2 linked regions of the Homo sapiens genome follow. The protein of the gene in region 1 purifies or fractionates together with the protein of each later gene. This does not show direct contact. Each region holds a gene or a part of one and is shown on either strand. Other genes may lie near its edges.

Region 1 (7,626 bases):
GGCAAAACCCCGTCTCTACTAAAAATGGAAAAAATTAGCTGGGCGTGGTGGTGGGTGCCTGTAATCCCAGCTACTAGGGAGGCTGAGGCAGGAGAATCGCTTGAACCTGGGAGGCAGAGGTTGCAGTGAGCTGAGATTGCGCCACTGCACTCTAGCCCAGGCAACAGTGCAAGACTCCGTCTCAAAAATAAAAATAAAAAAGCAGCAGCTGGGCTTTTATTTTCTGTCTTACCATAGGAGTAAAAGGTGCCATCCAATGTACTCTCCACCCCTTTTAGCACCTCTCCTCCGCAACTTCCCCAGCAGTTAATCAGACCCAGAGATTACAAACAAGTGTCTTTGTTGGAAACTAAAGATGAGGAAGAGGGTCTACTGTTCCGTTTTAGCCTCTTCCTCTGCCTTAGTTTTGTCCCTCCCAGCCATTCAGGAAGGAGTCAGGCATGTACAGAACTCAGGGTCTATTTATTAGGAAGGAGATGTCAGTGCTTTATCAAAGATGAAGGGGTCACAGAGGGACAATGGGACAAAGGCCCTCAGCTGGGACATTTCTTGGCCACAATGAGAACAGCAGAAGGCACGAGTCCTGAAGATGGAAGAAAACAGGCTTGAACCACAAGGATACTTGGTTTTTGCTCCCAAAATTCCTGGCCTTGCACCATGTTCACAAAGCCCCTTCTCTTTGCATCCCTCCTTTTCCTAGGCATGCCTCCCTACTCCCCCAGTTTCTAGTCCTGGTTTCTAGTCTTGCAGCCATACCCAGCTCCTGCAGAGGCCGCTCCATGTCAGCTTCTGAGAAGGCCCGTCTGGGGAAGCCACTGAGCAATTGCACAGGGTCCTGGCCCCCACCTAGTTCCTCCCCACGGTGGAGCTCCACATAGAGCCTCACAGCTGCCAGCTGTTCCCGGGCCCGGAACGTCTGGGTCAGTGAGGTCCCATCTGGCAGCCTGACCTAAAGGGCAAGGGAGATACTCAGTATTGTGGGCATCAAAACTGAATGAGGTGCCCAAGTAAGGAAAAGAGCTAAAGCTGGGCCCCCTTCTTCTTAGATTGAACCAGCACAACTACTATTTAAAGCACCAAATGAACAGCCACTTAGGCTCCGCTTTACTAAGTGCGGATGAGAGACTCCCAGCTCCCTCACAACCTAAGAAAGACAAGGATAAGATTATACAAAAGAATCTGGATAAATACCACATCACCAGATAGCTACATAATAAACCAAATAAAAACATGAACAAGTAAAAGGGTAACTGCTGAGTAAGAGAGAGGTATGGGTTTAAATACAACTGGGGCAGGTGAAATTTGATACCTTTCCCAAGAGTAGAGATAGGATTTCAAAAGTCATTTACAAAGAAGGGAGAGATTTGGCAAAGGGCACGTTAACTGAAAAAAGCTCTGAGCTGGGCACCTTAACACGGAACAAAGGGGTCCCAAGAGGAAGATAAGAATTAGAATCAGTACCTGTATGCGACACTGGTCATACTCCCGCTTGGTGGGAGGCTCCTGGCTGGGAGAAGAGGGAACAGGACCTGGCTCTGGTGCCACTGGGGGTGGCTGAGAGCCCACACTGCCACCATACTAAAGGGCAAAGTAAAACAGTCAATCAGGTACTCACCCATCCTCAGGTGAAACAGATCATATAAGCCCATGCTTTCCCTCTGAAGCTGGAAAAGATTTACTAACCTGCCCACTCCATTACCCGTGGCGTCTTCTCAGTCACCTACCTTCTTGGCTCTCTCTGCTTTGTCCCTCTCGATCTTTTCTCTAACTCTTTGTCTGAAATGTAGACAAGAAGAAATTAGGTCAGACATCAACAAAGCAAATCTTGATTTCTTTCTCATCTGCTATCCATCATTTCCCCTGCCCAGACCTGGCTGCTAACTCCTCGGCCTTTTCCCTCCGCCTCTCCTCAGCAGCCCGGCGCATCTCATCTTCCTGTAGCCGCTGTCGTGCTGCTGACAACTCTTGCCCTTGTCTCCTGCGCTGCCGTTCCCGTTCCAATGCCTCCCGTTCCTCTCTTTCTTCACGCTCCCGCTGCTTCTGGGCCACCAGCTCCAACATCCTGTGTTGCCGAGGGAAAACAGTTCAAGAGAAATGGACAGAGTGGGAAGGTGTAAAGTTTACAATAAACAAAATTAGGCGACATATATCCCAAAGTAGATTAAAGGAAAAGAAAATGCCAAGAAAGAGGAAATGTGGAAAGGTCAAGGTTCTTTGACCAGACGTGTACTGGGGAGAGATGGAAGACGACCCTCAGACACGTGAGATTGTTGTTACTGTACCTCTTAGTTTGTTCCTGTCTTTCCTCTTCACTCAAAGCGGGTTTGCCTTCTCCGGCAGCAGAACCAGATCCTACAAACAAACAATCGGTATTATTATCCCTTCAGATTCTCCTCGGACCCTCCTGAATAATCACACCGTGGACCCTCAGTCAGGACCTTCAAGGCCGCCTTGCTCTGAGGAAGTGGGCTCCCGTCCCAGGATATGTCCAAGGGGAGTCTCTAAAGGCTCGTCCACATCGGGGTCGTCTTCGTGCTCCATCAGCCTGGCAGGGAAAGTGGGCGGGGAGGTTAGCTTTGAGGCTGCCCCTCCCGCCAGCCCCCAATTCTCCGCCACCCGGGACGAGCGCTTACCAGTCCATCGCAGCCTCGATGCCCTGGTTCCCTGTGAGGGCCAGAGCCTTCTCCCTGGGGGCAGAAACACCATGAATAGCGCCCACGAGCCATGGTGACGGTCAGGCTGGGGCAAAGGCCGAGACAGGTCCGCGACCCCCCACACCCGCAGGCCGGGGTTGGGGAACTCCCTTACGCGCGTCCCCTGGGGAAGCCCATCTCGATGAGACTCTCAAGAGCCGTCAGCTCCGCCATGGCGCCGACACCGCGGCTTCCGCGGGGACCTGGTGTGTGACGAGAAGGAGGGCGGGAAGGGTCAGCGCGAGGCAACCCGCCCTCGACACCCGCCGACGGGCGCTCGCTCTCTCACCCGGCTCTATAGCAGCCGGGAACACCGACGAGAAGAAAGCCGAGGGGAAGCGGAAGTGCCGGATCTGTTTGGGTCACGTGGGGGCGGATGTCGACGGGTGCCGCTGAGAACCATAAAACTTCTGGCCCTGCTGCCAGGACTTTCCGTGGGTGGGAACAGGGAGGCAACCCACCAAGCCAAGGCGCCAGGCTGCTGTGGGGAAGAAAGCTGGTGCGGCTCTGAAACCCGTGGGCGGAATGAAGCCAGTTCCCGGAACTTCATCCTGCCTCACCCTCCTTAGAAATTAGAAGGAATATGGTCCCTTAGCGCAATGCTTTGGGAAGTTCTTTGGCAATGTTTGCCAGGAGCAGAAGAAATGTCTTGCTCTTTGGCCCACTCATTCTCCTTAGGGAATTGAGCCATCCTCTGCCTGACTGCCAAAGGGATTTTTGCAAAACACAATCATGTAGTCCTGTCTTCACCTCCCTGCTTAAAAATCCGTGACACTTCCACCATCTAGGACAACTTACTTTTTTTTTTATTTTTTATTTTTGAGATGGAGTTTCACTCTTGTTGCCCAGACTGGAGTGCAATAGTGCAGTGGCGCGATCTCTGCTCACTGCAGCCTCCGCTTCCCGGGTCAAGCATTTCTCCTGCCTCAGCCTCCCGGATAGCTGAGATAACAGGCGCCCACCACCATGCCCAGCTTTTTTTTTTTTTTTTTTTTTTTTTAAGAGGGAGTCTCGCTCTGTCGCCCAGGCTGGAGTGCAGTGGCGCGGTCTCGGCTCACTGCAACCTCCGCCTCCTGGGTGCATGCGATTCTCCTGCCACAGCCTCCTGAGTAGCTGGGATTACAGTCCCACGCCACCATGCCCGGCTAATTTTTGTATATTTAGTAGAGACAGGGTTTCATCATGTTGGTCAGGCTGGTCTTGAACTCCTGACCTCATATGATCCACCTGCCTCGGCCTCCCAAAGTGCTGGGATTACAAGCGTGAGCCAACGAGCCTAGCCATTTTTGTATTTTTAGTAGAGATGAGGTTTCTCCATATTGGTCAGGCTGTTCTCGAACTCCTGACCTTAGGTGATTCACCCACCTCGGCCTCCCAAAGTGCTGGGATTACAGGCGTGAGCCACCACACCCAGCTATTTTTGTTTTTGAGACAGGATCTGGCTCTGTCGCCCAGGCTGGAGTGCAGTGGTGCAATCTTGACATACTGCAACCTCAGCCTCCTGGGCTCAAGCGATCCTCCCACTTCAGCCTCCCAAGTAGCTGGGACTACAGGCACATGCCACCACACCCGGCTAATTTTTCTTTTTCTTTTCTCTCTCTCTCTCCTTTTTTTTTTTTTTTTTTTTTTTTTTTTAGACAAAATCTCACTCTGTAACCCAGGCTGGAGTGCAGTGGCACAATCTCAGCTCACTGCAACCTCTGCCTGCCCCGGGTTTAAGCGATTCTCCTGCCCGAGTAGCTGGGATTATAGGTGGCTGCCACCGCGCCTGGCTAATTTTTGTAGTTTTAGTAGTGACGGGGTTTCACCATCTTCACCAGGCTGGTCTTGAACTCCTGACCTCATGATCCACCCACCTTGGCCTCCCAGAGTGCTGGGATTACAGGTGTGAGCCACCGCGCCCGGCCTAATTTTTCTATTTTTTGTAGAGACGGGGTTTCGCCATATTGGCCAGGCTGGTCTCCAACCCCTGAGCTCAAGTGATCCACCTGCCTCGCCCTCCCAAAGTGCTAAGATTAAAGGCGTGAGCTACATACTCGGCCATCTGGGACAACTTAAATGCTAGTGGTCTGACTTCCTTCTGCGCCCACCTTGGCTTTTTTTGCGGGGAGGGGGGTTAGAACCCCCTCTCAAGTGGAGATCACAATAGCACCTACTTTGGTGCCTGGCAAGGCAGAGTATGTAAATGCTGGTAGTTATTGTGCAGTTTCATCACCCACCACTTGAGGGTAAGCTGTGCATATTGCAAACCAGACTTCACCCTCCTCTTGGCCTGTGCACCAACCAGTCTCCGCCTAGGATGTCCTGTCTCTTCACTTAGTAAACTAACTCCCAGGAGTTTTTCAGGATTCAGGATTTGCCTTCTAAGAAAAGCCTGCTTTGACCACTGCTGTCTGCCTTCCAGCTACAGTATTTAACCCATTAAGCATTTATCCCCACTGCTGTGAGTCACTGTTGATTACTTTGTGCTCCACCACTACCCGGGCTGTTAGATTCCTGAAAGTGAAGCTCACTTTAAATGTTTATTAGAAGGTAGAGTAATAATGACAATAACAGTTACTGATATTGATAATATATGCACTAGAGACTTGTGTGTGTGTGTGTGTGTGTGTGTGTGTGTGTGTGTGTGTGTGTGAGAGAGACAGGGTCTCACTTTGTTGCCAGGCTAGAGTGCAGTGGTGGGATCTTGGCTCACTGCAACCTTTGCCTCCCAAGCTCAAGCTGTTCTCATGCCTCAGCCTCCCGAGTAGCTGGGATTACAAGCACCCGCCACCACATCGGGCTAATTTTTGTATTTTTTAGTAGAGAAGGGGTTTCATCATGTTGGCCAAGCTAATCTCGAACTTGTTACCTCAGGTGATCCACCTGCCTCGGCCTCCCAAAGTGCTGGGATTACAGGCGTGAGCCACCGTGCCCGGCCTGCTAGAGAATTTTGTATGATTAATCCATATTTAATCATCACAACAATCCCTATGATGTAGAAGCTATTTTTAGTCACAAAAAAACAGACTCAAGGCCAGGCATGGTGGCTCACACCTATAATCCTAGCACTTTGGGAGGCCAAGGCGGGTGGATTACCTGAGGTCAGGAGTTCGAGTCCAGCCTGGCCAACATGGTGAAACCCTATCTCTGCTTAAAAAAACATAAAAATTAGCCGGGCATAGTTGCAGGCTCCTGTAATCTCAGCTACTCAGGAGGCTGAGGCAGGAGAATTGCTTGAACCGAGGAGGCGGAGATTACAGTGACCCGAGATCGTGCCATTACACTCCAGCCTGGGCAACAAGAGTGAAACTCTGTCTCAAGAAAAAAAAATAAAAAAACAAAAAACAGACTCAGAAAGATGTTTTTTTTTTGGCCAGGCACGGTGGCTCACGCCTGTAATCCTAGCACTTTGGGAGGCTGAGGCGGGCAGATCATGAGGTCAGGAGTTCGAGACCATCCTGGCTAACACGGTGAAACCCCTTCTCTACTAAAAATACAAAAAATTAGCCAGGCGTGGTGGCACACACCTGTAATCCCAGATACTTGAGAGGCTGAGGCAGGAGAATCACTTGAACCTGGGAGGCGGAGGTTGCAGTGAGCCAAGATTGTGCCATTGCACTCCAGCCTGGTGACAGAGTAAGAGGCCGTCTCAAAAAAAAAAAAAAAAAAAAAAAAGGAAAGATGGGTTTTTTTCTGAGACAAGGTCTGGCTTTATTGCCCAGGCTGGAGAGCAGTGGCACAATCTTGGCTCACTGCAACCTCCTTCTCCCAGGCTCAAGCCATCCTTTCACCTCAGCCTCCCAAGTAGCATGTACCACACCTGGCTAACTTTTGTATTTTTATTATAGTAGAGGTAGGTTTCCGCTATGTTGCCCAGGCTGGTCTCGAACTTGTGAGCTCAAGCCATCCCCTGCCTTGTGCTGGAATTACAGGCGTGAGCCACCATGCCCAGTGCTGGAATTACAGGCGTGAGTGCTGTAATTACAGGCGTGAGTGCTGGAATTACAGGCGTGAGTGCTGGAATTACAGGTGTGAGCCACCATGCCCAGCCAAGATGAGATAATTTACCTAAAGTCACAAAGTAAATAACAAAACTAGGATTCAACCCAAGGCAGTGTGTGTTCTCTAAACCACTATGCTATGTTGCCTCTCCACGGTAGAGTGACAAGCATGGGCTTTATTTTTTTATTTTATTTATTTATTTTTTGAGACAGAGTCTCCGTCTCAAAAAATGAAATAAATAAATAGTAATAATAATGAGATAGTATGACCTCTCGTTATTTGTAAATAAATGAATGCTAAGGAAGGCCGGGCACGGTGGCTCATGCCTATAATCCCAGCACTTTGGGAGGCTGAGGCGGGCGGATCACGAGGTCAGGAGATCTAGACCATCCTGGCTAACACAGTGAAACCCTGTCTCTACTAAAAATACAAAAAAATTGGGCGTGGTGGCAGGCGCCTGTAGTCCCAGATACTCAGGAGGCTGAGGCAGGAGAATGGTGTGAGCCCAGGAGGCGGAGCTTGCAGTGAGTGGAGATCACGCCACTGTACTCCGGCCTGGGAGACAGGGACTCCGTCTCAAAAAAAAAAAAAAAAAAAAGGAAAAAAGGCACAGGGTATTCACTGCAGTATTATAACAAGTGTATTCAGGATAACATATGTATTCTTTTTTTGTTTTTAGAGATGGAATCTCACTCATTACCCAAGCTGGAGTGCAGTGGCACGATCTCAACTCACTGCAACCTCTGCCTCCCTGGTTCAAGCGATTCTCCTGCCTCAGCCTCCCGAGTAGCTGGGACTACAGGCGCCCGCCACCACACCCAGCTATTTTTTGTATTTTTAGTAGAAATGAGGTTTCATCATGTTGGCCAGGCTGGTCTTGAACACGTGACCTCAAGTGATCTGCCCACCTTGGCCTCCCAAAGTCCTGGGATTACAGGTTGAGCCATTA
Region 2 (7,034 bases), on another chromosome or scaffold:
CAGTATGTTTTCTTACACATTTTTCTTTACTGTATTACTTCCCTAGAATTGAGTCCTAAAAGAGAGATTACTGAGTTGAAGGGTATGCACATTTTAGATTTGACTAGATGCTACTAAATTACTTTCCATAAAGGGCTGCCATTTATACTCTCAAAGCAGCATATCAAAGAACATGTTTTTCCATTGCTTTTGCAGCACTGATATTAACAAGCCTTTTAATTTCTGCCAGTCTTACAGGGGAGAATGGCATCATATTAGTGTTTATCTGATTATATCTTTTCCTATAGAGTTTTACTTTTTAAATTGCCTTATTGACCTTTAACATCTTTATATCAACTTCATTGTGCCTCTCAAAAGATCACTCTCATCTTTCTATTTAATATCTGTCACATATCTTGAGCTTTCAGAGTATCTCATTAGTTCAGTGGCTTACAGAATTAATTCAAATAGTTTTAAAATCATTCCTCTTGTGTCCTGTAAAGAACCATTTTAAATGATTACTTTGCATTTTTTCACTTGGATCTTTGTGTCATTAAAAAAATTTATATTTGCATAATGTTGATAACTGTTATTTCCAATATTTTGTAGCAAATCCTATTTGAGGGTTTCTTCATGTGTTTCTTCCCTGATGTGCAGAGCATTATTATATGGTGGAATGCGAGAGTCTCAGCCTGAAGCAGAAATTCCTCTCCAAGACACCACTGCAGAAGCATTCACAATGCTACTCAAATATATCTACACTGGGCGGGCAACGCTGACAGATGAGAAGGAGGAGGTGCTGCTGGACTTTTTGAGCCTGGCTCATAAATATGGATTTCCAGAGCTAGAGGATTCTACCTCTGAGTATCTCTGCACCATACTTAACATTCAGAATGTCTGCATGACTTTTGATGTTGCCAGTCTCTACTCACTTCCCAAGTTAACTTGTATGTGCTGCATGTTTATGGATAGGAATGCTCAGGAAGTCCTCTCAAGTGAAGGTTTCCTCTCCCTTTCTAAGGTGTGTCATTTGTCTACAAGTAATTTATAGGCATGCATTGTTTTATTTATACCTATACTGTAGAAGTATAGCAATGGACTAAGAATAATAAAAAAAATCATTGGTATCAAAGCGTTATCATTGGTTATCTGGTCTAGCCACTTGCATCTAGCTACCAGGACTCTAGATCATAAAAGAGAGGGGCTGGTTGGTTGTGTTTTCTTTTAAGGTTCTTCAGGTAAGTTTTATGTGCAAAAGAGACTGTGCTGCTGTGTGGTTGTTTTCAAGGTAGTGACAATCAAATAGGGTCCTTTTTGGTATTGCATACTACCTTTTGGTTTTGTTTTTCTCTGACAGAGAGTGTGACTAATAATTCCTTAGAGCAAGCAGGCAAATTCATAGAGGAGATCTGATGCAACATTTGATGTCTTTAAGTCCCTGCTTTTTTTGCTGGCTTAAAATTCAGTATTATAGCTAGAGTAAAACTGTTTTGCTCAAATCTTCCTTTGAACTCTGGGTAGTGATTGTCTCTCCATTTGCCTTGTTGTGTTCCTTCTAGAACCTGGATATTTCTAATGAGAAAAATCTATTGAAAAGCTACATATCTTGATTTGAGTGTAAATTAAGATCTGTGTTATCCTATTTCATTTTTTTCTACTTAATTTTTAAAGACAATGATCTTTGAGGGTTGCAACATTGTTCCTGGAGGTCAGTTTGGAGATCTGAGAGCCAAAAGTATGGTAGTGAAGTAATACTGTGGAACAAAATTTGAATTTTAAATGCCAAATATGTCTTTCTAACTTAACAATGTACACTCTCTTGAAGAATCTGAATGTATTGACAGCTTTTCACTTTGGCGTTTTTCTTTTTGCTGTTTTAAAAAAGATGAATGCAGATGTGTTTGGAAAGATTAAATGTTTGATGTAGTGGTACAAGATACCTGAACATAAAAGAATGGTGCTACCGTCTTGGTTGTTTACACAGCCATAATGAGTAGGAGAATATGTGGCACAAAGCATAAGGGAAGGAGAGGGTCAAAAAGAGTTAATTGGCTAAGTTATACTTGTCCTGTAAGCTTTTACTGATTGGTCATGCAGTGGTTGAACTTCATATAACTGGAATTTTACCTTTTTATCCTTTTCAGACAGCACTTTTAAACATCGTGTTAAGAGACTCATTTGCAGCTCCCGAAAAAGATATTTTCCTAGCCTTATTAAACTGGTGTAAGCACAATTCAAAGGAGAATCATGCTGAAATCATGCAGGCTGTGCGTTTACCTCTCATGAGCCTCACAGAGCTTCTGAATGTTGTGAGGCCTTCAGGACTGCTGTCTCCTGATGCCATCCTGGATGCCATTAAAGTGCGATCTGAGAGCCGGGATATGGACCTCAATTATAGAGGCATGCTCAGTAAGTACCTGTCTATCCTAAACTCAACCAAGAAGCTTGGTATGCCTCTCATGCCATTAAAACCGCAAAGCTACTACAGAACCGTGTAGTGCAGGTGTACATGAAATATGTACGTTTATAAACAGCTAGCCTATGGAATGTCTTTCCCTTTCATTTTCCTGTTAATTCCTCCTGAGATTGATTAGCTTTTGTAGACCCCCAAATAGGTATTTCTTGCCATTCCTGGACAGATTTCTCAACTCCTCCCCAGAATGTCAGAAATGGACACTTTCCTAAAAAGCTGCTGCTCATGTTAAGACCTTTTCTTCCTTCCTCCATCAAATAAATACTGAGTACATTCTATGTACTTATTATTTTGGGTACCATGAACATGGAGATTCTTTTTTTTTTTTTTGAGATGGAGTTTCACTCTTGTTGCCCAGGCTAGAATGGAAGTTGCAATCTCGGCTCACTGCAACCTCGCCTCCCAGGTTCAAGCGGTTCTCCTGCCTCAGCCTCCTGAGTAGCTGGGATTACAGCCACCCGCCACCACACTCGGCTAATTTTTATTTTTAGTAGAGACGGGGTTTCACCATGTTGGCCAGGCTGGTCTCAAACTCCTGACCTCAGGTGATCCACCTGCCTTGGCCTCAGAAAGTGCTGGGATTACAGGCATGAGCCACCACGCCCGGCTGAACATGGAGATTCTAAATAACAATAATAATAGCTAACACTTATGTAACATACATACATAAGGTAGCTAACACTTATGATACTTATCACCACTTAAGTGGTGATTTTTCTTATTAATGGATTTATAGCAATTAACACTTACAGAGTGCATAGTATGTATCAAGAACAGGTCCTACACGATTTAATTCTCACAACTCTTTGAGGTATATACTGTTATTGACTCCATTTTACACAATGAGGAAACTGAAACAGAGAAGTTAAGTAACTTGCCCAAGGTCACACAGAAAGATGACAGAGCTGAGAGTCAAACCTATGTAGTTTGGCTCCAGAAGTTGTGTAATTAACCACTAAACTATGCTGCATAATTGTTAAACATAGTCTCTGCCTTTGATCCTTTTAATTTCATTGTGGAAATAAGACATAAACTCCCATGAAAAGTTAAATACAACAATATTCAAGGGAGTACATGTTATAGAACTTCAGAAGAAGTGGCTTGGTATGGTTGAGGGAGATTTCATGGAGGTTATGAAGCTTGAGTTGAGCCTTGACATTTGATTTGAATAGTATAAGAGTTGGGTGAATTTCAGATGGGAAGAATCATGAGGTTAATAGACAGAGGTTAGAGCATTTGAAGAGACCATAAATAGAAGAGCTTGATTAGAGTAGAAGGCTTTTATTGATTAATAGCAAAGAAACTATGTGAAGGTCAGCTTAGGCCAGTTTATGGAAGTCTTGGAAACTAGATTGGAATCTCCCTTACATGCAGTGAGGAACCAATTTGAGAGAGGGAGAGTGGCATGCATGCAGTGGTGGTTTTGAAAGACTGATCCATAGTGCTGTATTTGAGTATTTAGAATAGGGGAAAACTGATTCAGAGAGACCAGTGAGGAGAGTATTTAATCTGTGCACAATTGATACTACCTCAAACCAGATTGGTGGCAGGGAAAATGGAAAATAATGGATGATTAGAACGGATACAATGGAAAAAAATAGATCTTGATGATTCAAGGGATATAAATGTGGGGATTAAGTTTAGGAGAAAGTTACCATTTGTTATCAAATCTAAGAAGCCAGAAATTCTCAGGCACCATTATTTTATGTTCCACTAAGAAAAGAAACAATACTGCCAATTAACTGTGACACACTATGATGTCTACACTGCGATTTCAGAAATTTAAAAATTTGAACACTAGGTATGTCTGTAATGAAATACAGTACAGTACTTCTTTGAAGAAGATGCTGAGCTTGATTTTTAGATTGAGTTTGAGGGTTTTGGGGTTGCAAGTTGTAACTTCTGTCCCAAACTAGTCATTTCCCTGAGTTATCTCTTCTTGACTATGCCTTTAAACATTCTCTTGAAATACTGATTGATCTTAAATAGATGTTCTTAACAGAATTCTCTCCTGACTTATCAGGTCTAGATTTCTTTTCACTGGGCATAGGAGAAGAAACATAGGTTTTGGCCCAGACAAATTTGACTTCAAATCCTGAATTAGTCACTTACTAGTTGTACAATCTGGTATTAAATTATTTAAGGAATTTTACCTTTTATATCTCCTAGCATTGTTATGAGACTTAATTAAAATAATGTGTGCAAGCTCAATATAGGAAACCATTGTTACCATATATCATTATGATGTGTTTTTTTTTCTGTGTATATCTGTGTGAGAATTACCACCTTGATCACATTGTTTTAAACATTTTTGTTTACTTGTCTTTGATCCTTGAAGGCAGAGATGATCTTTATAGGCCTTATTGATCTCTATATCCTCAACATTTAACACACCAAATAGCATATAATGGGTAATTGGTGAATGCTTGGTGAATGCTTAGTGAATGAATGCAGGGAGAAATGTCTAATAGGAAATAGGAACACATTACTCTTTAGGACCAGTCAAAGCTGGTGATAAAAGAGTTGAAACCTGAGCTGCTAGAGTATAGAAAAAGAAGTAAAAAACAAAGTCTGAAACTTGGAGAAAACCTATTGCCAGGGGACTTAAGGTAGAGAAGGAAGAAGGAAGACATTTGGGATAGAATAGAGTTACAGAGGACAACCGGAGGAGAGAGCTTTCCTATGGATCCAATGGTCAATGGTAGCTCACGATAGGGAGGTCAAGAAAATTGAGAGACAACTTTTGGATATAAATTGTGATTAGTTGATAAGTAATCTGGACAGAAGATTGGCTGCCAGGGAATTAGGCCATGGATGTTTGAAAAGATAATAGAGATAACATATTGTCTGTCTGATTTGTGAATTGGATTGTAAGGTAGTAAAAAAATAGTATGGTAGCTAGAGAGATCAGGTTGGGAGAGGTCCAGGAAGAAATCAGAGGTGCTAGAGAATGGTACTAGTTAAGTGTCAGCCTTGGATAAAGTGTGGGAGGATGGCAAGTGAAGAGGTAGTAAGATGAGTAATTAGTGTTAGGCTTTTCAAATTATCATGTCGGATCCTGTCTTATATAAGTTCCTTTCCCTCTCTTGCCCTGCATTTGATTTGAAGTGCTGAAAAGGCCCTAGAACTGGATTCATTATAGGGATAATCTTGGGACATGTTTGCAGGAGTGAGGATTTGTTTTGGACATTTCACATGGTTACTGGTAGTTTGGAATTGATCAACTGGTCAGTATAAGGGTAGTACCTGGGTTACAAGAAACTCAGGAGATGAGTTGCGAAAGGGAGAACTTAGCCAGTTGAGTCACTCAGTTCTGGAATGACACATACACAGATTGTTGTTCATCAATGTTAAATTCTTCACTTTGAAGTGAATGAGGGGGAGCTCAAGGAAGAGACTATGTAAATGTTTGGGAATCCTTTATCTAACTTCTGAACTTGAGTAATGATTAAGTAAGTCTGTTTTTCCTGACTTTTAAAGCATGTGAATAATAAAATCAATAATATAAATACAAGGAAGCATTACACTTCCCTGTCAGACCCTGAAAAGATAGGTTTTTTTAATTCAATCATCTTTATTAATCTATCAGTCTTACATTTTATACATGACATCTAGTCGTATTCTAAAAGGGCTCTACTTTTAGTACATCATGTTAATAGCAGAAAGCCAAGTAAGATGACTAAACCTTACACTAGCATTTTAATATCCTCTGGACAAGGGAAGCTAGGTCAATCACTTTACATACATGTAAGAGTAGTGTTCCAAAATAACTAAGAAGTTGCTATATTTTTAAGCAGGGAGGAAAGAACTTTGATTTTGGTCTTTGTGTTCCAGCAAATTATACTTTCAATTAACAGCAACAAAGATATAACAAATGCTCTGCTTTTAAAATTTGTGAACTTCATTACAGATTAAAACAGTACTGGAGTCTTTTGGGAGGCCAATAGCTAGCAGCTACATTAATTGGTGTAGATAAGCCTCGTTATCGATAACCAGGTCCAGGTTTGGTATAGCCCTGACCAAAGGGAGGACATATAAGGATTAGGCCCAGTTGGAGGAGGGGTCATGCTACTTACAGGAAGTGAAGTAAAACTTGATCTTGGTCTATAGGCCCCAGGTTGGCTTGGAGCCATTCTAGGTTGAGAGGCAGGGGCCACAGTATAATTAGTAGGCTGAAAAGTTTGGGTAGTATAAATTTGTGCAGGATAATTGCTTGCCTGGTACTGTGTGGCAGCTGAGCAGGCAGTTGTTGAGGCTGACCAAAAAGGCAGGAGCTGGTGCCTGGGTAGTTGGTTGCTGGCCATATCCTTGGAACTGCTGAGGTTGTTTGGAGTCCAGTCTGCTGACTCTGGCTTTTTGAATACTGAATACCATACTGTTGAGGCTGCTGAGGTAGAGCCCGCAGACACGGTGCACCATAGCTAGCCTGTTGCTGGTACTATTGATACAGCTGACTTTCAGTCTGACCTGCTTGTATCTTAGCTTCTGTATATGGTGGTTGCTGTGGCTGAACTCCTGGTGGGTGAGCTGCTACTGAGGAGGAGGCGGCAATGCTGTCAGATGTTCCTGAACAGTCTTCTGC

Evidence for each region.
Region 2: the proteins of UBXN1 (region 1) and BTBD9 purify together in Homo sapiens (affinity purification with mass spectrometry; 4 studies listed by BioGRID and IntAct, with this or other methods). This does not show direct contact.

The regions. Positions count from the first base shown.
Region 1 is NC_000011.10:62,676,057-62,683,682, forward strand, and holds UBXN1 (UBX domain-containing protein 1), read right to left. Parts: upstream 3,018-7,626; 5' UTR 2,868-3,017; coding exon 2,809-2,867; intron 2,688-2,808; coding exon 2,634-2,687; intron 2,546-2,633; coding exon 2,439-2,545; intron 2,353-2,438; coding exon 2,283-2,352; intron 2,063-2,282; coding exon 1,871-2,062; intron 1,777-1,870; coding exon 1,725-1,776; intron 1,579-1,724; coding exon 1,462-1,578; intron 950-1,461; coding exon 757-949; coding exon of another isoform or gene 662-756; exon of another isoform or gene 584-661; coding exon 534-583; 3' UTR 444-533; downstream 1-443.
Region 2 is NC_000006.12:38,587,930-38,594,963, reverse strand, and holds part of BTBD9 (BTB/POZ domain-containing protein 9), read left to right. Parts: intron 1-588; exon of another isoform or gene 589-628; coding exon of another isoform or gene 629-636; coding exon 637-1,000; intron 1,001-2,123; coding exon 2,124-2,388; intron 2,389-7,034.